Regions from separate parts of the Homo sapiens genome. Here regions 1, 3 and 4 are each linked to region 2. Evidence: fine-mapped expression QTL. A gene starts in region 2. Each other region holds a variant in brackets. All regions are shown on one strand. Distances are between the middles of the regions.

Region 1 (5,152 bases), 140 kb before region 2:
AAGAACAAAGCTTCCACAGCATGCAAGAAGATGGTGGGCGGGGGGCCAAGGCCAGGGCAGGGGCAGCGGCAGGCTCAGGCATGGAGGGCTGCAGGTCCCGAGCCCTGTCCCGCAAGGAAGAGGCTGAGGCCCGGCAAGAATTCGAGCATGGCGCAGGCGGGCTGACAGTGCTGGGGGAACTGGCGCACCCTCCGAAGCTGCTTGCCTGGGTGCTAAGCCCCTCACTGCCCTGGGCCAGCGGCGCCGACCGGCCGCTCCGACTGCGGGCCACTGAGCCTGCACCCAGCCGGAACCCGGGCTCGCCACAAGCTTCACGTACAGCCCTGGTTCCCGCCCGGGCCTCTCCCTCCATACCTCCGGGCAAGCAGAGGGAGCCAAATTCGGCCTCGGCCAGCCCAGAGAGGGGCTCCCACAGTGCAGCGGCGGGCTGAAGTGCTCTTCAAGCGCAGCCAGAGTGGACACCGAGGCCGAGGAGGCGCTGAGAGTGAGCGAGGGCTGCTAGCATGTTGTCACCTCTCAAAGAGATCTTCCTGCCTCAGCCTCTTGAGTAGCTAAGACTACAGGCATGTGCCACCATGCCCAGCTAACTGTTTTAATTTTATTTTTAGAGACGGGACTTTGCTTATGTTGCCCAGGCTGGTCCTGAATTCCTGGGCTCAAGTGATCTTCCCACCTCAGTCTCCCATTCATGAGGGATTCATTCCCCGCCCTCCATGACCTAAACACCACCCACTAGGCTCCACTTCCCAAGGTCACCATATTGGAGATCAAATGTCAGCATGAGGTTTGATGGGGATAAACAAATCTCATCCAAACAGCAAAGAAGGAATGAGGCACAGAAGCCCTGAGAGAATAAAGAGGTTCCCAGCAGAGAAAACATGGAGCAAGACCAAAGTGTGGCACTTTTGAAAATGATTTGTCTAATTGGAGTAAGAGATACAGTTGGCAGAGTAGCGAGGAAGGCAGAGGCCAGACCAAGTACAATGTCATGTGCTAGTCTCAAGAATTTTGCTTTAATCCTGAAGGAAGCTTTGAAGTGTATTTAGCAGAGACGTGATGGAATCCAGAAGTTTAGAGGGAAACACTAGAATGCAGTACGGGAGGAGCATCTCCCAACCCTGGAAGACTGGAGTCCAACCAGCATGTGCCAGGTTGTCTCTTCTCTCTGCTACAGTTCTTTATTCATTGCTACAGTTCCTTATTCACATGTAACTGTAGGCTCCCTTCATCAGTTTAGGAAAACAAATGAGGTCACATATCTTTCTAACTAGCTTCTTGAGCCACCACACAGTCAAATTAACTGGAACCCCAGGGTCTCCTTCTTAGGACCTTTTTCCAATTGTAAAAGAATCTTGGTGTTTGCTCTGCTTAATGGGGCGAATCCAAACAGTGTTCAGGAAAAAAAATATATAAAGAATGTCCCGAGCCTATGATAAGACCTTGGCTTTTATGTGCCATTTCTCCTATAGCTATTGGTCTGATCCATGCCTTCTCCAATATCATTCCAGGACCCCAAGGAAAACAGAGCTACATAGGAAGGAACTCCAATAAAGTGGCAACAGTGATCAGATTTGGGATTTCAAAAGGTTGCTCTGATGTCAGAGTACACAGGGTTGGACCAAAAGGGAACACAGCTAGAGGCAAGGAGATCAATGAAGTTGCCCATGCAGTGTTTTAGATGGAAAGTAATAGAAGCCTGAAGAAGGGAAGTGGGGATGGAGAAGAGGGCAGAAGCATGATATAGGTCAAAAGCATAAAATTGACAGCATCTATTGACTGTTTGGATGTAAGGAGTAAAAGGAAAATAAAGTTGATAGTTTATATAGACCTTCCTTGGGAACGGGGTAGATGCCAGTGAGATTCCACAAGATTAGGGATGCAAGAGTCAAGATAGGCTTGGGAAATGGTGAAGGCAGTTGATGATCTCAGGTTTAAGCGTGTGAAGTGGGGTGCATGGGGAAAAACTATAGGAATGTGTCTCAAGGTAGTCAGGTATATAAGCATGGAACTCATGAGAAACGTCTGGAGATAGGGATTTCAACTCACTGGTTTGTAGGTAATAGTTGAATTGGTGTGGACAAGAGCTGCAGGAAGAATTGTTGAATGGGATGAGGGCAGAACACTGGGGAACCCAAACTCTAAGGATTGAGCAAAGATGTCTGAGAAGGAGCACTACAGAGGTTGGAAAAGGAAGACTTCAAAAAGACAGCAATCAGCATCCTGCACTGCAAGAAGGCAGGTCAACTAACAAGGACCTGAAGTGCTTCATTAATGATCTTGGTGA[G/A]AGTGAGGAGTGGGCACAGAAGCTTGACCAAAGTAAAAGAGGAGAAACAATAAGGCCAGGGTTATTTTTCAGAAAACCAGGTGATGAGGGACAGCATGGAATAAAATGACAACTGGAGAGGGAGGTAGGGTCAAGAAATGGTGTGTGGTGTGGTGTGTGTGTGTGTGTGTGTATGTGTGTGTGTGTGTGTGTGTGTATGTGTGTGTGTGAATTTCTCTGCCACTTTTTTAATCCCACAGAGAGTGGCGTTCGTTTGATGTCTACAAGTCTTAGAAGGGCCACTGACTCCCCAGATGCCCCTCCTTCTCCCTTTACCTTAGGGTTATAACTGGGCATTCACTCGTCTTAGAATCCCCCTCTTTTTTCATAGGGTTTTGGGGACATCACATAGGATTCTAGGCCTTGGTGGGTTTGACACATCATAGCAGTCAGCTTATTCAGTCTCTTTTTCTTATTTAACTAAAGCTCTGCCCATGTCTTCTATAGTTATGGGAAACTACTCTCATCAGCCAGCCGTGGCGTAGCACCACACCCAGGGCTGTCCATGCTTGTGTGGTCCATATAAATAATCATTTCAACTGGGAAATTTTGAGAATAAAAGGAGTGTTGTTAGCAATGACTGACAGACAACAGGTGCAAATGGAAATTGTCCCCGTCAAATGGAGACATAGTCATAGACAGTCAGATGATCCCTACTCATTCTTCATATTTGCATTGTCACAGCTCAAAACACATGAAGGGATTTTATATACATTGTATTATTTGAGGCTTTTTAAGTAGCACACATTATTTTATTTTATTATGAGATGGAATCTCCCTCTGTTACCCAAGCTGGAGTGCAATGGCACGATCTCAGCTCACTGCAACCTCTGCCTCCTTGGTTCAAGCAATTCTCCTGCTTCAGCCTCCTGAGTAGCTGGGACTGCAGGTGCATGCCACCACACCCAATTAGCTTTGTATTTTTAGTAGAGACAGGGTTTCACCATGTTTGCCAGCCTGGTCTTGAACTCCTGACTTCAAGTGATCCTCCTACTTGGTCTCCCAAAGTGCTGGGATTACAGACGTGAGCCATCGTGCAGGCCCACGCATTACTTTAGAAATAAATAGGTAAAGGAAATCATGTTTGCAGAATCTGAGCTGGCACGGACTGCCTGGTGCAAACCCCTCATTTTATAAATGAAGATCCCAAGGCCCAGCTCTCTGGAAGCTCCAGTAAGACCTGAATAACTATCAGATTTGAGGTCCCTCCTACTTTAGATCCATTCCCCCAGCCTCCACCAATTGGGAGGGGAGCCAGAGGGGAGGGTGTCCATGGATTTGCCTTGGGAGGAAGAGCTATGAGGAAGTCTTCATGAATTTGTCCCTGAATGGCAGCCAAAGCAGGAAGCCTCCTAAGTTTGGAATGGGGGTCAGTGGAGCTCAGGATCTATATCCCGCAGAGCATATGGAGGCCCAAATCACTGTCTCCTCCTCTGGCTCAGAGTTTCCCTATTTCAGTCTGCACCTGCATCTTACATCCCACAACGAAGTGGAGCCTCTGTAGCAGTGGCAGACTACAGGTCTGTATTTACATGGGTCCGTATTTCATCTGCATCGTGACACCAGCCTCCACCACTTTCTGTGCCACCCAGTTCTGGGAGGGAAGAGATTTCATGGTTTTGATGGACTCTCTTAGAGCTATTTACATGCATGAAACAATTAGGAAAACAAAAATAAGGGAGCGTGATGATTAAGTTTTGATGTTAATTTGACTGGAATAAGGAATACCTAGAAATCTGGTAAAGCGTTTTTTTTCTGAGTGTGTCTGTGAAGGTGTTTCCAAAGGAGATCGGCATGTGAGTCTGAGAGGACTAAGTGGGGAAGATCCACCCTCAATGTGGGCAGGCACCATCTAGTCTACTGGGGACCTGCAGAAAACAAAAACAGAAAGGGCAAATAGGTTAATCTCTCTACTAGAGTTGGGATATATTGTCCCTCTCCTGTCCTTGGACAACTTCAGGCTCTCTGATCTTTGGACTCCACGAGTTACACCAATGACCCCTGGGTTCTCAGGCCTTTGGCCTTGGAATGAGAGTTACACCATCATCCTCTGGCTCTGATGGCATCACTCCTGGCTCTGATGCCTTTGGACTTGTACTGAGCTGTACTACCAGAATTCCCAGGTCTCCAGCTTGCAGACAACCTGTCCTGGGACTTCTCAGCCTCAATAATCATTTGAGCCAATTCCCCTAATAAATCCTCTCCCATCTACCTATCTATATCTACATCCATATCTAATCTATGTCTATATCCATCTCCTATTTGTTCTGTCTCTCTAGAGAATCCTGACTAATACAGAGAGTAACAAAGCATTTTTCTCATGTTTTATCTTTCATCTCAGAATCTAATTAATCACTTCCTTAATTACTTGAATGAGCCACTGGAGGTTTGGGGTCATGATTCCTGCTCTATTTATATCACCTTGTTTTTGATGAGATGACCCTACCTCTGAATACTGAGTCTAAACATACCAATAAAAAGATGAGAGACGGCCGGGCACGGTGGCTCACACCTGTAATCCCAACACTTTGGGAGGCCAGGGCGGGTGGATCACTTGAGGTCAGGAGTTCAAAATTGGCTTGGCCAACATCTAATTTAATAGAGATGACATCTAATTTAGTAGAGACGAGTGAAACCTCGTCTCTACTAAAAATACAAAAATTAGCCAGGCATGGTGGCAGGCGCCTATAATCCCAGCTACTTGGGAGGCTAAGGCAGGAGAACCACTTGAACCCAGGATGCAGAGGTTGCAGTGAGCCGAGATTTTTGCACCACTGCACTCGAGCCTGGGTGACAGAGCTTCATCTCAAAAAAAAAAAAAAAAAAAAA
Region 2 (5,152 bases):
TGTCACAGAGTTGCTGCAACTGCCAAGAGGCAGGGGAAAGAATGAATGGTGCTGTTGATGTCCTTAAAATACCTGGTTCTGCAGAAAACTCCTAACAGACGCAGGCTTTCAGGACACCATTGGAAATAGGGCTTATGGAACACATGGACAAGTCACCCATTCTATGGCAGCACCTGGTCAGACGTTTCTTTTATTGAAAAAAATATATATATATTATCGAAAGAAAAGTATATTTTAGGAAATTGCGCTCTGTTTTTACTGTAACACAGTTCAAAAGCAAGCAATGCTATAGTCCTTCATGTGGTCTGTCAAAGTACTAAGAATACACCGCTACCAGTAACAACATATTTTGTTAGACTTTGCTCTCATCACCTAAGCAGATGCAATCTAAATTATAGAGAGACTTGGGGGGAAGGAGGATCATGAAATAAAACCTAATGCTTATGCTTAGCTACAACATTCCAATTATTTACAATTCCCAGTGAAAATGCTACATTAGTAATTTTCAAGTAAATTTCTTCTTGTCACTCTTCTTTAGGGACAATGTTTTCACTTGAGCTAGCTCCTGTCCTAGCAGGTTTCACAGGATTGAAAGACCTCCAGCTGTTGTAGGCCAATGCCAGGGCTGGCTGCATCCTTTAACCTTCCCTGGGATTTCATCTCATTATAAGAATATGAAGCGATCTTCAATATTAAAGAACCAACATCAAACAGCAATTCTATAGGCTCTTTTATACAGCAAAGTTTCATAGGATTTGCATTTAAGTCATTTGTCAGTTCTTTATTGACATCTGGAAAATCCACCCTGATTTATAAACAAAGTCAATGACACTGGCCAGGTCTTCAAGGTTTCAAGTACCTGTGCAAGGACAATGCACTTGTTATTAACCCAAAAGTGCATTACGGTGCACACCAGTGCCTCTTGTCTGGAGAAAAGAAGCCATTGAACCAATAATAAAATCATATTTCACGTAGAGACACTTTTTTTTTTTTTGAGACAGAGTCTCACTCTATCTCCTAGGCTGGAGTGCAGTGGCGCGATCTTGGCTCACTGCAACTTCCGCCTCCCGGGTTCAAGTGATTCTCATGCCTCCGCCTCCCGAGTAGCTGGGATTACAGGCGCCTGCCACTACGCCGGGCTAATTTTTGTATTTTTAGTAGCGACAGGGTTTCGCCATGTTGGCCAGGCTGGTCTCAAACTCGTAACCTCAGGTGATCCGCCCACCTCGGCCTCCCAAAGTGCTGGGATTACAGGTATGAGCCACCGCGCCTGGCCCATAGAGAGACATTTGAATGAAAACAGTCTTTGGAAAAGGTAAGAGACATGAAGTCATATTTTGAATAGGCAAACAGCAACCTCAATACAGCACTTGTAAAGTTGACGTCCCCGAGTGCATTCGGGGACTTTGATGAAGGCCACCGGGTGAAGACGGTCATGGGTTCCATATAATCTGCAGAAGGCCTCGGTTTGCAAAGTCCTACCCAGATGAATCACCTCTGGTATTGAAAGGCCAGACTGCCCCCTGAGGTTTCTAGGAGATCCAGGTATTTTACAAATGTTTCCTCTACAAGCAAGTCTGGTCTGAACTTTTTTAAAAAGCACCCAAAGGCAAGTCAAGGTTAAGCGTGTCACCAGCCCCAAAGCAAGTAACCAAGGACTAGCTGGACTTCCGAGCCCTGAAGGCCTGGGCATGAGTTGCTGCTGGCGCCCTAAGGCTGACTCCCACCTCTTTCCATCTGGTACTATGTCCTGTGGAGCCCGCCTGGGCTGGCACGGAGGTAGTCTTCCCCCACCTCCCTCTGGCCCCACTTACTGTTGCTGGACTTGAGGTCCCGGTGCAGGATGGGCACGAAGGCCTCCTCATGCAGGTAGAGCATGCCCCGCGCTATCTGCACGGCCCAGTTGACCAGCACGTGCGGAGGGATGCGGCGCGCGCGGCGGGGGCCGGGCGCGCGCGGGTCCGGGGCGGCGTTGGCAGCGGCCAGCGCTCGGTTGAGCGCTCCGCCGCGGGCGAACTCCAGCACCAGGCAGAGGTGCGGCTGCTGCAGGCACACGCCGCGCAGCTCGATGATGTTGGGGTGCCGCAGCATGGCGAAGAGCCGAGCCTCGCGCCGCACGCTCTCGGCAGCCGCCGCCGCGTCCTGCTCCGGGTCCTGGCGCGCCGCCTTCACGGCCACCTCCTGGCCCTGCCAGGTGGCGCGGTACACCTGCCCGAAGCCCCCAGCGCCGATGAGCTCCTTCAGCTCCAGCCGCTCGAAGGCGACGTGTACCGGGGAGCTGGGCCGCGAGGGCGGCGGCGCGGGGCTGGCGGCCGGGCGGCAGGGAGCCACGTAGTTGGCGGGGAAGATGCCGAGGCGCCGCTGCACCTGGCCTGCCCACCAGCCCTCGTCGCCCGACACGGCGGCGTCCTGCGACAGCACCTCCACCAGCTGGCCGCGCCGCAGGCTCAGCTCGTCCTCGCCGCGAGCCTCGTAGTCATAGAGCGCGGCCCACAGCCCCGCGCCCGCCGAGGCCGAGCCGCCCGAGGAGGTGGACGACGAGGACGCTGAGCCGCCGGGGGCTCCCCCGGCCGAGGACACCGGGGTGTCGGTCGCTCCCGCGGCGCCCCGCAAAGCCATGGGGGCAGCTGCGCGGGGAAGGCGGAGCGGGAAGCTGGGCTCAGCCTCCCGGGCGGCCGCGGGCGCGCATCGTCCGGCGGTGTGGCCGTCGGCGCCGGGGGAAGGCGAGGGGGTAGGAATCGCGATCGGTGACGGCAGAGATCACGGGCTAGCTGCCCAAAGGGTCCAGCCTCGGCCCGCGTTCCTGGCCAGCCGCCTCTGCTGCCGCAGCGGTCCCCGAAGCCGCGGGCGACGTCCCACCATGGTCGTGCCCAGGCCCTGCGGCCGGCCCGCCCGCCGCGCGCTCCTTAGCCAGAGCCTGGGACGCCCCACCCCACCCTAGCCGCGCCAGGGCCGCCCCGCCCCCTCCGGCTCCATTCCGCACCGCCCCCCCACCCCCCCGGGCCCGCCCCTAGGCCAGTCCCCAGGGCCTTCCCGCCCCTCCCCCAGCCGCCCCGCCCTCTCCAGGTTCATTCCGCCCTCCTTGACCCGTCCCGGGCGCCCAGTCTGCGCCCGCCCTATGGGACCGCCTTCCTAGGTTCGCCCCACCCTTCCCCACCAACTGCACCATCCCGCCCCGCCCTCGCCAGGTTCACTTCCCTTTTCTGTGCCAGTCCCCAGAGCCTCGTCCCGCCCCTGGCGCCCGGGCCCGTCCCCCACCACCTTGGGCCGGGCCCGCCCCCTGGGCCCGCCTGGCTGGTCCCACCCCGCCCCCGCCGCAGGTGCTCCGGAGCAATGGTGAGCCGCGCCCACATGGTCTGGGAGGCGGGATCGGCCGTCATCCGCTATAAATTTTCGGGAGAGTTTAAATTAAGCCAAAGGTAAGACTGAGGGAGGGGACGCTTCTCCAAGAAGCGGTGGGAGAGGGTTGAGAAGATGTGGGGCTTTAGGGTGTGGCGGGGAGAGAGAGAGTTGCAGTTCAGGGAGAGTGACAGAATCTCAGAACGGGCTACAGAAGAAATTGTAGCGCGGTGCCAGACCTGGGCCAGTGCGAGTGGCAAGTCACCATGCTAAGTGCGTTTGAGCCACCGTGCATCTCAGAACTGACTAGGTTACAGATCGCAGCGCAGAGTGACCCGTGGTCGGTATAGTCCCAGAAGCTCCATGATGGTAAATCCTTTGCTTATTTTTACTGTCTACTCAGATGGAAAATGCCCCAGTCTCCCTGGAAACCCACAGGTTTGGGTTTAGGAAGCATTGGCAATGGCTGGGTGCCAGACGTTGGTAGGTTACTGTGGCAGGTGATGAGGCTAAAAAGATAGAAGAGCTTAGTTATTAAAATTCTAAAATATTAGATTATCCTGTAGTAGGCCAGAATTTCCTAACGTGTGGATCCTGTACTTCCAATAACAGAAGGGACAATTTTAGATATTATGAGGATAGGACATACAGTAACATTCTGAGTTACATAAAGATAAATTTATTGTCTTTTCAGTTTTCTTTGTCTCTCAGATCAAACTATTTATTGGCTGTGTGACCTTGAGCAAGTTTCTTTATTTCTCTATGACTCAGTTTTCTCATCTATAAAATGGGAATATAATAAATAGTACCTACTTTATAGGGTTTTTAGGAAGACTAAATGAGTTAATAGTTTTACAGTGGGTCTTCTGCATCCACAGAATCAACCAACAGCTGGTCAAAAATGTTTTTTAAAAACCCAAAAAATAACAATACAAATAATACAAATAAAATACAGCATAACAACTATTTACAGAGCATTTACATTATATTAGGTATTATAAGTAATCTAACTATTTAAAGTATGGGCATACTTTGGAGATACTGCAAGCATGGTTCCAGATCACTGCAATAAAGCAAGTGACATGAATTTTTTGATTTCCCAGTGCATATATATACAAGTTATGTTTCCAGTATACTGTAGCGTATAAAGTGTGCAATAGCATTGTGTCTAAAGAATGTTTATACCTTAATTTTAAGTACTTTATAGGTAAAATGTGCTAATGATCATCTGAACCTTCAGCAAGTCATAATCTTTTAGCTGGCAGAGGTCTTGCCTCTATGTTGATAGCTGCTGACTGATCAAGGCAGTGGTTGCTAAAAGTTGGAGTGGCTATGGCAAATTCTTAAGGCAACTATGAAGTTTGTCACATGGATTGACTTTACCTTTCACGAAAGACTTCTCTGTAGCATGGGAAGCTGTTTGATACCATTTTAACAACAATAGAACTACTTTCAAAATTGGAGTGATCCTTCTCCCACCCTGCTGCTATTTTACCAACCGAGTTTGTGATATTCAAAATCCTTTTTGTCGTTTCAAAATGTTCATAGCATCTCCTCTGGGAGTAGATTCCATCTCAAGAAACTACTTTTTTTGCCTCTCCATAAGAAGCAACTCCGCTCCTCATCTGTTCAAGTTTGATCATGAGATTGTAGCAATTCAGTCACATTCTCAGTCTCCACTTCTCGGCTCATGCAAGCTCCGCCTCCTGGGTTCGCGGCATTCTCCTGCCTCAGCCTCCCGAGTAGCTGGGACTACAGGTGCCCACCACCACGCCCAGCTAATTTTTTTTGGTTTTTTTTTTTTTTGTATTTT
Region 3 (5,152 bases), 51 kb before region 2:
CACTTTAGCAAATAATTATTGGCTTATAAGTTAGAGAAAAATATGCTTTCATATGGGATTACTGTGCTAGAATTTCTCCTTGTGCAATTATAAATTACCAATACTTATTGACCTACAGAAAGATAATAAACCAATTTATCTAAAGGCAATGAACAATAATATAGAAAATATCATATCCAGATATAATATTTAAAAAGAAGTAAAGGAAAAGATAAAAAGGATGAAAGCAGTTTGTCTTAATATAGCTTTATAACCAATGCTAGCATAGCATTTTACAATTTAGAAAGCATTTTTTGTATATATTACCTCACTTAATATTCATGACAGGTATATAAGGTTATTGCAATTATGTTCACATACAAAATAAATAATACTCAAGCTCTACAGAGCACTTAGTGTGCCATCTGACTTTTACCACGATCTCAATTGTACAGATTAGGTAAGTATAGTATTAGGTATGTATATTGTTACTGTCCCCATTTTATAGATGAAGAAACTGAGGCACAAAATGTTTAAGTGATTCGCCCAAATTCACTCAGCATATAAGCAGAGATATGAGCCCAGCTAGCTTCCATACTATTAACCATGACACTACAATGCTTTTTAAGACATTCAAACAAGAAAGCAGTCTACGTAATTTCCCCAGCATCACAAACTTACCAAATAGTACAACTAGAACTTGAACCTTTGTTCTATGACTCAAAATCCCCCATTCTTCCAAAGTACCCATATTATCTCCTCAAATGTCAGTATTTCAGTGCCACTTAACCCCAGAAATCTCAAAGCTGAGTACATTCTAGCACATGATAGCATGATCCAGTCACATCAATACTCACTGAATTTTAGGAATGGAAAAAATACCGCAGTGAGGAGGAGTGAGACACTGTGATACAGCAGAAGGATCCCGGGTTTAAATTCTGACACCACTACTTCCTAATTGTGTGACCTTGAATAACATTAATTTTCCGTAAGTTTGAATTCTCTTGCATATAATAGAGTTGCCATAAAAACTAAGAGACAATTTATGTCCAAGTGCTTTAACATCTATAAAGTGCTGTGGAAATACCACTGGTTGCCTTCTGCCCAAGCCCCTCTTGTTGAATAGACTAAAAAACTATTTAAAAATTTGATTTTCTTTTCTTTCAGAGATTCCACATCTGGACATAAACCTCATGGAACTGTCTGGTATAACATACATCAACAGGGTAATACTTGCTGTCATGGGGTGAACTGTGTCCCCACAAAATTCCTAAGCAGAAGCCCTAACCCTCTGTCCCTCAGATGTCACTGTATGTGGAATAGGGTCTGTACAGAGGTGATTAAGGTAAAATGAGGTCATTAGGGTGGGCCCTAATCCAATGTGACTGATGTCCTAAAAAGAGATTAGGACACAGATGATTAGGACACAGATGCACTCAGAGTGAAGACTGTGTGAGAACACAGGGAGAAAACGGCCGTCTAGAAGTCAAGGAGCCAGGCTGAGCTCAGAAGGAACCAACCCTTCAGACACCTTGATCTGACTTCCAGCCTCTGGAACTGCTGGACAATGAGTTTGTGCTGAACATCTCTCCATGCTGTGGCACTCTGTTATGGCAGCCCTAGCAGGCTGATCACCTGCTACACACAGTCCCAACAGAAACAGAACAATGACATGTACAGCAGTGGAGGAGACAAGGCCCGCAGGGAGGCGAGAGGCCAGTTTCAGTTCCAGCCCTCCCACTCATCCGTGGTTCTAACTGGGGCAGCTGGCTTGTCTTTCCCGTAACGTGAGGGGGCTGGGTGGTTATTCTCCATGTGTTCTTTCTGCTTTGATATGCTATTATAGGTTTCAGTTACTGAAATTCAATTACACTTTTCCCAGAATCCAAATCATAGTTAAAATCAAATAAGAGAAGGGTAAGGTTCAAAGATCTACATGAACAGTAAAAACAAATTATTAAATGTCATCACCAGGAAAAGATAAAATCATAAATCCATACTGTTTCACATACTAATCTCTACAGCAGTGTTTTATGCTTTTACCTAATTAATGCAACCTACTTGGGGTCGGATTTCCATCAGACATGGTCCGTCTGTGATGTGACGGTCTATGTTTTGAAGAAGCACAGTAAGGTACATTCCCACATGTCTGCTGTAGGAAGGAAGACGGCAAGTTTCTTGATACACTACAATCAGTGTCAAGTCTTGGCATGAGGGCTGGCTCACGACCACTTCCTGGGGCAGTGGGACAAAAATCCGGAGTGAGCATCTCAGAGTCACAAGTGACAGGTGCACTGTCCACCAGTGGATCTTCACTGTCCATCTGCAGCAGGCACTTTGTGGAGAAAGAAGGTGTGGAGAGGATGCCCAGGGCACTTGACAGTGGCAGGGAGGGTGGGCTGCTGGCCTCCCCACAGGTGGATGGCAGGCTTGTGGGAGGACTGGCGCTTCTGCGGGACTTGGAAGCCCGCTGGAAGATTCCCTCTCGTTTCTTCTTCTCTTCCTTGGGCAACGGTTCTTCAGCAGCCTGTGCTTTATGAAGCTCTCTGAGGTCCAGTCCCAGAGCCACCGATGCCAGAAGGA[C/T]GGTGCACCCATACAGAGCTGACTCCGTTTTCTTTCTCTGGGGGGATCTACTCAGACTATTCGTAGGAGTCATCTCAATGGAGACTGTGGCAGCATTCGCAGAGGCTGCCTCCTCCCAGCTTTCAGCTTCTGCAGGATTCTCTCTCTGAGCATCTTTCCCAAGAGGTAGATCAATGTAGGCCTGACTAGGCAATTTTATTTGTTTTGGTTTTCTGTGTTCTAATCCATCAGGGGAAAGTTTTGGCTCTTCACAGGACCCTAAATAAAGGTATAAGTACATACACTGTAGTATCATTTTACAGCAAAAGTCATTTAAACAAGATTGTAAAATAAAGCTAAAATATAATAAATACATATTTTAAATCAAAACACATGCAGCCCTTTTCATTTCTGCAAATGATTCATCCAGGAGGGCTCCATGGAGCAAGAGTCTAGGGCCCTACAACTTCAGGTTCCCTGCAGATGAACCAGCAAGCTAGCCATCTGCTGTTTCCTATGCTTCGGGAAGCTGTTCTTCATCAGCTTCAATAATAGACACTATTGTAGAAACAGTCATCAAAACACAAAAACGCACAACCATAGGCACAAAATCACTAAATATGTCACCAAATGTGCTCTTTTCCTCACTTCACCTAAATACATGCATCAGGCTCCATTATCTACAGCTTTCCTGTGTATAAACTAACTGTTCTGTAGCAGATCAGCAGTTCTCAAAGTGTGTGGCCTGGACTGGCAGCATCTGCATCCCCTGGGAATTTGTAGAAATGTAAATTATTGGCCCACCCCAGACTATGGAATCAGAAATTCTGAAGAGTGGAGTCCAGCAGTCTGTGTTTCAGCTAGCCTTTACTGAAGTTTGGGGACCATTAAAATAGAAGATTCTCCCAAGAGGTTACAGAATCCCAAAGGTTACAAATTATACCCGCTTAAGAGGAAGCTAACATTCTTATCACAAAAGTGACAGCGCATAATTAAACAACAAACTCATTAATCTGATTTCCAAATAACATCTCTAATTTTTTCCAACACTACATCCTAGTATACCTAAACATGCTTGATGATCTAGACCAGGGGTCCCTGAACCCCAGGCCATGGACTGATACCGTGGCCTGTTAGGAACCAGGCTGCACAGCAGGAAGTGAGCAGCAGGTGGGCGAGTGAAGCTTCTTTTGCATTTACAGCCAGTGCCCATTGCTCACATTACCACCTGAGCTCCGCCCTGTGTCAGTTCAGCAGAAGCATTAGATTCTCATAGGAGCATGAACCCCATTGTGAACTGCACATACAAGGGATCTAGGTTGCTCCTTATGAGAATCTAGGATCTGATGATCTGTTGCTGTCTCCCATCACTCCCAGATGGGACCATCTAGTTGTAGGAAAACAAGCTCAGGGCTCCCACTGATTCTACATTATGGTGAGTTGTAGAATTATTTCATTATGAATTACAATGTAATAATAATAAAGTGCACAACAAATGTAATGCGCTTGGATCATCCTGAAACCATCCCTACCCCACTGGTCCATGGAAAAACTGTCTTCCATGAAACTGGTCTCTGGTGCCATAAAGGTTGGGGACTGCTGATGTAGACAATTTGGGGTGCCAGCTTTCTTTCTCCAAAGAACCCTGTGCTCTTCCCTGTGGTGCCTTTTGTTTGGGGTACCCTCTTTTTCCTTCCACTCCCTGACGTTGCTGACCCAAGCTCCCTTTTCCTTCATAAAGGAGAACCTTCAGAAGGAGAAGCTGAACCCAGGTAGTGAGTGCAAAGGTGCTTGTGAAATTGAGCACAGTACCAATAACAAATTCAATACATTTACATTGTGTCTTGCTAAGGCATCTTTAATTTGATCAAAGTACCAAAGAGTCTGCCTAAATGGTCAAGTATAAAGACCAATTTTATTTTCTGTGTTAGTAACCGTGCTTGAAGTTTTTCAACGATTTCCATCTCTTCAATCTTTTAATACTGAATACTGAATACAAATATAGAATATTGAAAGTAAATCATTATGATTCATTTAAATTAAATAGAAATTCCAGTGTAAAACTCTCCAAGGAGTCATTTTTCTTATTTATTTATTTATTTATTTATCTAGAGATAGAGTCTCATTCACTCTATTGTCCAGGCTGGCATGCAGTGGCACAATCTTGGCTCACTGCCACCTCTGGCTCCCAGGTGCAAGTGATTCTCTTGCCTCAGCCTCCTGAGTAGCTGGGATTACAAGCAAGCACCACCATGCCGGCTAGTTTTTGTGTTTTTCATAGTTAACCTGTTTCATTGGATTTCCTCATGTCAACAGGTGGCACTATAGCAAGAAGCCATACCCCTTAATCTCAGCAGAACTTTCAGGGGGGTCTATATTTTTACATCTAATATTTCCCATACTAAATTGATTTGGTTTTACATAATTAATTGTGATAATAATGTTTCTGGTAAGGAAGAAGAGTTACAAATTCCCAAAACCACGTGAAGCCTAATTACTTCCTGCCATAAATACTTGACGGAAAATAACTTCTGAATTTAAGTAAAGCTATAAGAAATGCCATTACTTGCTAATCTCCCCTCTGCTACTTTAATGACCACGTAAGACTGTA
Region 4 (5,152 bases), 58 kb before region 2:
AGACAAATGCTGGATTCACTAGGTACACCAGCATGTGTAATGGGAGTAGCAGAAGAAGAGAGGAAAAGAAGAAGAAAAAAATATTTGAAGATATAATGGCTGAAAACTTCTCAAATGTGCTGAAAACATGGATCTACACATTCAAGAAATTCAACAAACTCCAAGAAGTATATATGCAAAGAGATCCATAACTAGATGTGTCATGGCAAAAATGCTAAGAGCCAAAAACAAAGAGAAAATATGGAATGCAGCACAAGAAAAATGACTTAGGACTTTTCACAAGCTAGCAACTCTGCATGGAGCATTCCTCATCCAGTGGACATCCTGGCTTCCTCAGACACTTCCCTGACACCTCCCACCCACCCAAGATTAGATGAACTCCTTTAATGCTATCAAAGCCCCAGTGACTTCACCTTTTTTTAACACTCCCTTCGCTTGTTGTCAGAATTGGCCGCATAGCTTGTGAGGCCCTGTGAAAGATAAAAATGAGGGCTCCCTCTTTAAAAATTATTAAGAATTTCAAGATGATGTTCACAGAGCATGAAAGTCAGGCTCAGGGACCATCTGAGTGTGAGGCTCTGTGTGACTGCACAAGTCACATGATGTCCATGCAGTTGCCCTGAGCACAGTTTCTCATTAAAACCATCCAGGCAGGGGACAAGCCTCATCTTCCTTGCTCTCCGCTACATCTGGTGTCTCTTTCGTGGTGCCTAACACAGTAGCCACTAAACGAGTTTGTCAGTGTGTGGAAGCTCCTCAATCTAAACTACTTACAGGAAGTCCTCACTTAACATTGTCTATAGGTATTTGGAAACTGTGACTTTAAGCAAAACAAGGTAACACAAAACCAATTTCACTACAGGTGAATTAATAAAAACAGCAGTTAAGTTCCTAGGGCATATTTCTGGTCACGAAAACACCACTAAATCGCTAAATAAAGACCCCAAACACTTCTAACACTAAACATTGAAATAAATGTTATCTATACATACATCTAAGATTAATGAAAACAATTTAAGGTAATTATATACCCAGTGATTCTGGTTCAGGGTCGCAGGTGGCCAGAGCCCATCCCAGCAGCTCAAGGCACAAGGTGGGAATCAACCCCATTCTATGGCAGGGCACACTCACACACCCACACTCTCACACTCAGACAATTGAGACACACCAGTTAACCTGGCATGCATGTCTTTGGGATGTGGGAGGAAACCAGAGTCCCTGGAGAAAACCCACGCAGACATGGGGAGAAAGTGCACACCCCACAGACAGCAGCCCTGGCTGGGAATCAAATTTTTTTCCTCGTTAATATTATAACAGAATGACATTGAATGAAAAAATGTTATGTGTGGACCTGCTATATTTTGCTTGGTTGTAAAAACAATAGCTAGTTTTGTTGTTGTTGTTGTTTGTTTGTTGTTTGTTTTTGAGATGGAGTCTTGCTCTGTTGCCCAGGCTGGAGTGCAGTGGCACAATCTCGGCTCACTGCGAGCTCCACCTCCTGGGTTCATGCCATTCTCCTGCCTCAGCCTCCCGAGTAGCTGGGACTACAGGCGCCTGCCACCACAAACAATAGCTAGTTTTTGTTCCACTCTCTGGTACCGATTACATTGTTTCATTCACAAATACTTCATCTTTCACTATGTTTCAGCATGTTGATCTTTGCAGAAGTAAAGAATAGAGACAGCTTAAGCCCAATTAAATTATTTTATGTGTATATTGCAGTTCTTACATAATTTCACCATATTTATTGTCTTAGTCCATCTGGGCTGTTATAACAAAATAACATAAAGTAGGTGGCTTCTAAACAACACACATTTGTTGCTCACAGTTCTGGAGGCTGGGAAGTCCAAGATGATGGTGCTGGCAGACTCTGTGTCTGCTGTGGGCCTGTTTCCTAGTGTATATATAGCAGTTTCTCACTGTGTCCTCACATGGTGTAAAGGGATAACAGCTTCCTTCAGGCCTCTTTTAAAACAGCATTAACCCCATTCATGAGAATTCATGATCTAATTACCTCCCACCTCTTAATTCCAAAACTTTGATGGTTACGATTTCAACATAGGAATTTTGAGGGACATATTCAGACCATGGCATTTATGAACCTATTGAACAGAATACCTCATTTCTCTGAGTTGATCTATCAGATATGCATATTTTACTCCTTTCTATTGCATTTTCCATTGTATTAAGTGTTATTAGCTAATAGTGTTTTATTTTTAAATAAGTACTGTGAAAGTTAATAATACAAATTGGGCAATTCTTGTCATACATACTCAGTTAAATCAGAACTGAGGGGCCAGAGAGGAAAACATACGTGGGGGACATAGCACCTACTCCACGAATGTATTTTCTCCAAGCCCAGCTGCTGAAATGGCCTGCTGTCACCCCAGGGCCAGTTTTACCTGGTAGCTGCTGAAGCAACAATTTGTGACTCTAAGACTTGTTTTAATTCCTGCCATGACTCACCAACCAGAGCTTGCCAGAGTCCAAAAGCTTCTCTAGTGCCAATGAGCTTTCTTTCAAAACAATATGTAACAATTCTTTAATAAAACTCCTGTCTCTTTGTTCTTTGGACATACTGAAGATCACCTGGTCTCTGTGTATGTCCTGAATTGCAATTCTTGCTTCCTAAATAAAATGTTTCAAATTTCAATATTTATCTCTATATCTTATTTAACTTCAATGGTACTCATACATTTTTAGACTTTTGACTTTTTGATGAGAGAGAAACTACCTTAGCTTTAGATAACATTTACAAAGCTCATTTGCAAGATGTCCTCATCTTCTACACCATGCTTACAACTATTAACCACAGGTGTGAACAGGTAGATGGTGATCACTTGACTCAGACTGGGTCTTTGGAAATTTACCAAACCTTTCTGTGTCTGTTTCATATCTAATGCGATAGGAGTAGTATTACTTATCTCACAGTTT[G/T]TTTTTTTTTTTTTTTTTTTTTGAGATTAAGTCTCACTCTGTCACCAGGCTGGAGTGCAATGGTGCGATCCCGGCTGACTGCAACCTCTGCCTCCCAGATTCAAGCAATTCTTCTGCCTCAGCCTCCTGAGTAACTTGGATTACAGGCGGGCACCATCATGCCAGACTAATTTTTTGTATTTTTAGTAAAGAAGGGGTTTCACCATGTTGGCCAGGATGGTCTCGATCTCTTGACCTCTTGATCCGCCCACCTCAGGTTCCCAAAGTGCTGGGATTACAGGCGTGAGCCACCATGCCTGGCTTTCTCTCACAATTTTTATTAAAGAGAATTACAGGAGTTGTCTTCTATAGGCACCTAGGAGGGTTCCCCATACTTAACAGATATTCAATGCACATTACGTTTTGCTCCCTCCCATGTGGTGGGGTAATGCTATGATCTCCATGAAGTCCTGCGATCTGCTTTCCTCATTCACTCAAGCTTTTATCACTTAGTAAGAATTTCTACATGTTAAGTGGTGTTTGAAATTCCTCTGATTTAAACATAAAATTAAACAATAAAATCAACATGTCTCCTTAATCACTGAGATTTTTTTCTCATACTCATTTCACTCTGCAAAAGTGTGTCTTCTGAAAAGCTGGACTTGCAAAACGCTCACCATGAAATATAACTTTTCAATGCATATGTAAACCAAAAAAATTTGAAATAAAACATTTCATTCTACCTTTTTTGATGTATTTAATTGAATGACTCATTTAGTGATTTTCAGTTTAATATATTTAGCAGGTTAATACCTGGCTTATTAAACAATAATCTTTATTAACACAATTTTTCTTATTGAATACAAAATAAACCATTGCAAACTATAGTCACAATAATCAAGAGAGGATCAAAGCTACTGAGCAAATAGACCAGCTATAAAAGTTTATTAAAAAAATAGACAACATATGTAAACATATTTTTCAGTCACAAGGCTTCATAATACAGCACATTAGGCCCAGGCCTTAAATCTCTGCAGTGAGAGTACCTTAATTTTTTACTAACAGTAATTGACTTATCTTTCAGTGAACATTAAGCCTACACAAAAATAAATAACCAGATTCTGCTAAGTTTACTAACACAGAAAATTGCAAATGTACAATAGATTGCAGCAAAAGTTAACTATCTGCAGTAACATGTGAGATTGAATTGTTATATTACAATTATTTTAATACAGCTTCATTTTGAAATTCATCATAATGTAGAGTTGACTAAAATAAAGCTAAAGGGGAATAATAACAGAGATAAACAAACACCCAGATCACATACACTCCCCAACACACACATGCAAACACACATTTACTAATATGCATGCACACACACACACGCCAACATACATGCACACACATACAGGGATGTTTTGGTAGAAGTAAAACTGAGGACATAGTTTCCATCCTTTTTCTTTCATGTATTGATGATTTTAGGTATATATTTCTCTACCCTTAAGCTGGAAGCTACGTGTTCCAAAAGGACTGAACACAAAGCAATCATAGTTTCAAATGTGATAACATTTTGGGAAAACCAAATCTCTGTTACATAATTCAATAACCACACAAAGTGAAGCCGAATCATAGAACAGATGATAAAACAAGAAAACGTATTAAGTATCTGAGACTTTGCTGCAAGAATCCAGAATGCAAGATCGTTTTCCTTAGGGCAAAACTTACCATGTTAATACAATCCTTTCATACTGTTTCTCATCTGCTGGATATACCTGTTAGGCAACCACAATGCTGCAAAATTGCCAAATAATATGATTTTCCTTTTCTTCTATTATAGGTGAGATATTTTATCACACAATTGAATTTATTTTAAATTGCTGACATTTCAGTTATTCAGTAAACCTTAAGCAAGGTGCAATTTTAAATGAAATATCAAGCAATGTTTTTAATTTAGTTTTTCATTGTTTGGAAAAATTTAAATGTCGATTGTCTGTCTTCTGAAGAGCCACATTCTAGAGACAGAAGGGAAGCACAATACATTTAACATAAGAAACCAAGGCAAATTTACCAAGCTCTCGGGTAGCCATTTCTGCACCAATAACTCTGGATTTGTATCATATATGTATGACCATAAAAGTGATTCATAGATAATTTTATTATTTAAATCCTGATCTGCTATTCAAAGATCCATTTCTGAAAATAATTCATAATATAGTTGTCGTTTCCACCATATGAGCTT

Direction of the effects. Positions count from the first base shown, and alleles are read on the strand shown. Sizes are in standard deviations (SD) of each study's normalised expression. Not every link is listed here.
In carriers of allele T in region 3, the expression in amygdala of the gene that starts at base 2,924 in region 2 tends to be higher than with C alone (moderate effect, 0.57 SD a copy in GTEx).

What was found. PIP is the estimated chance that this variant, and not a neighbour inherited with it, causes the effect.
Region 1: its variant is fine-mapped to the expression of MAP3K21 in prefrontal cortex (GTEx, PIP 0.92).
Region 3: its variant is fine-mapped to the expression of MAP3K21 in amygdala (GTEx, PIP 0.92).
Region 4: its variant is fine-mapped to the expression of MAP3K21 in whole blood (INTERVAL, PIP 0.97).

Annotation. Positions count from the first base shown.
Region 1 is chr1:233,461,226-233,466,377 of GRCh38, reverse strand. No RefSeq gene overlaps it. Among named protein-coding and RNA genes, the nearest start is that of MAP3K21, 140 kb to the right of the region's middle. The variant G/A (reference allele first, on the strand shown) is at 2,285.
Region 2 is chr1:233,325,496-233,330,647 of GRCh38, reverse strand. MAP3K21 (mitogen-activated protein kinase kinase kinase 21) reads right to left here and starts at 2,924. Exons shown (of 10, transcript NM_032435.3): 1 at 1,815-2,924. The coding sequence starts at 2,619. It also overlaps a transcript of PCNX2 not described here. RefSeq lists silencers at 2,281-2,480, 2,670-2,821, 2,621-2,920, 3,111-3,410.
Region 3 is chr1:233,376,599-233,381,750 of GRCh38, reverse strand. MAP3K21 (mitogen-activated protein kinase kinase kinase 21) reads right to left here. Exons shown (of 10, transcript NM_032435.3): 9 at 2,041-2,820. Among named protein-coding and RNA genes, the nearest start is that of MAP3K21, 51 kb to the right of the region's middle. The variant C/T (reference allele first, on the strand shown) is at 2,563.
Region 4 is chr1:233,383,825-233,388,976 of GRCh38, reverse strand. MAP3K21 (mitogen-activated protein kinase kinase kinase 21) reads right to left here. Exons shown (of 10, transcript NM_032435.3): 10 at 3,829-5,152. Among named protein-coding and RNA genes, the nearest start is that of MAP3K21, 59 kb to the right of the region's middle. The variant G/T (reference allele first, on the strand shown) is at 2,935.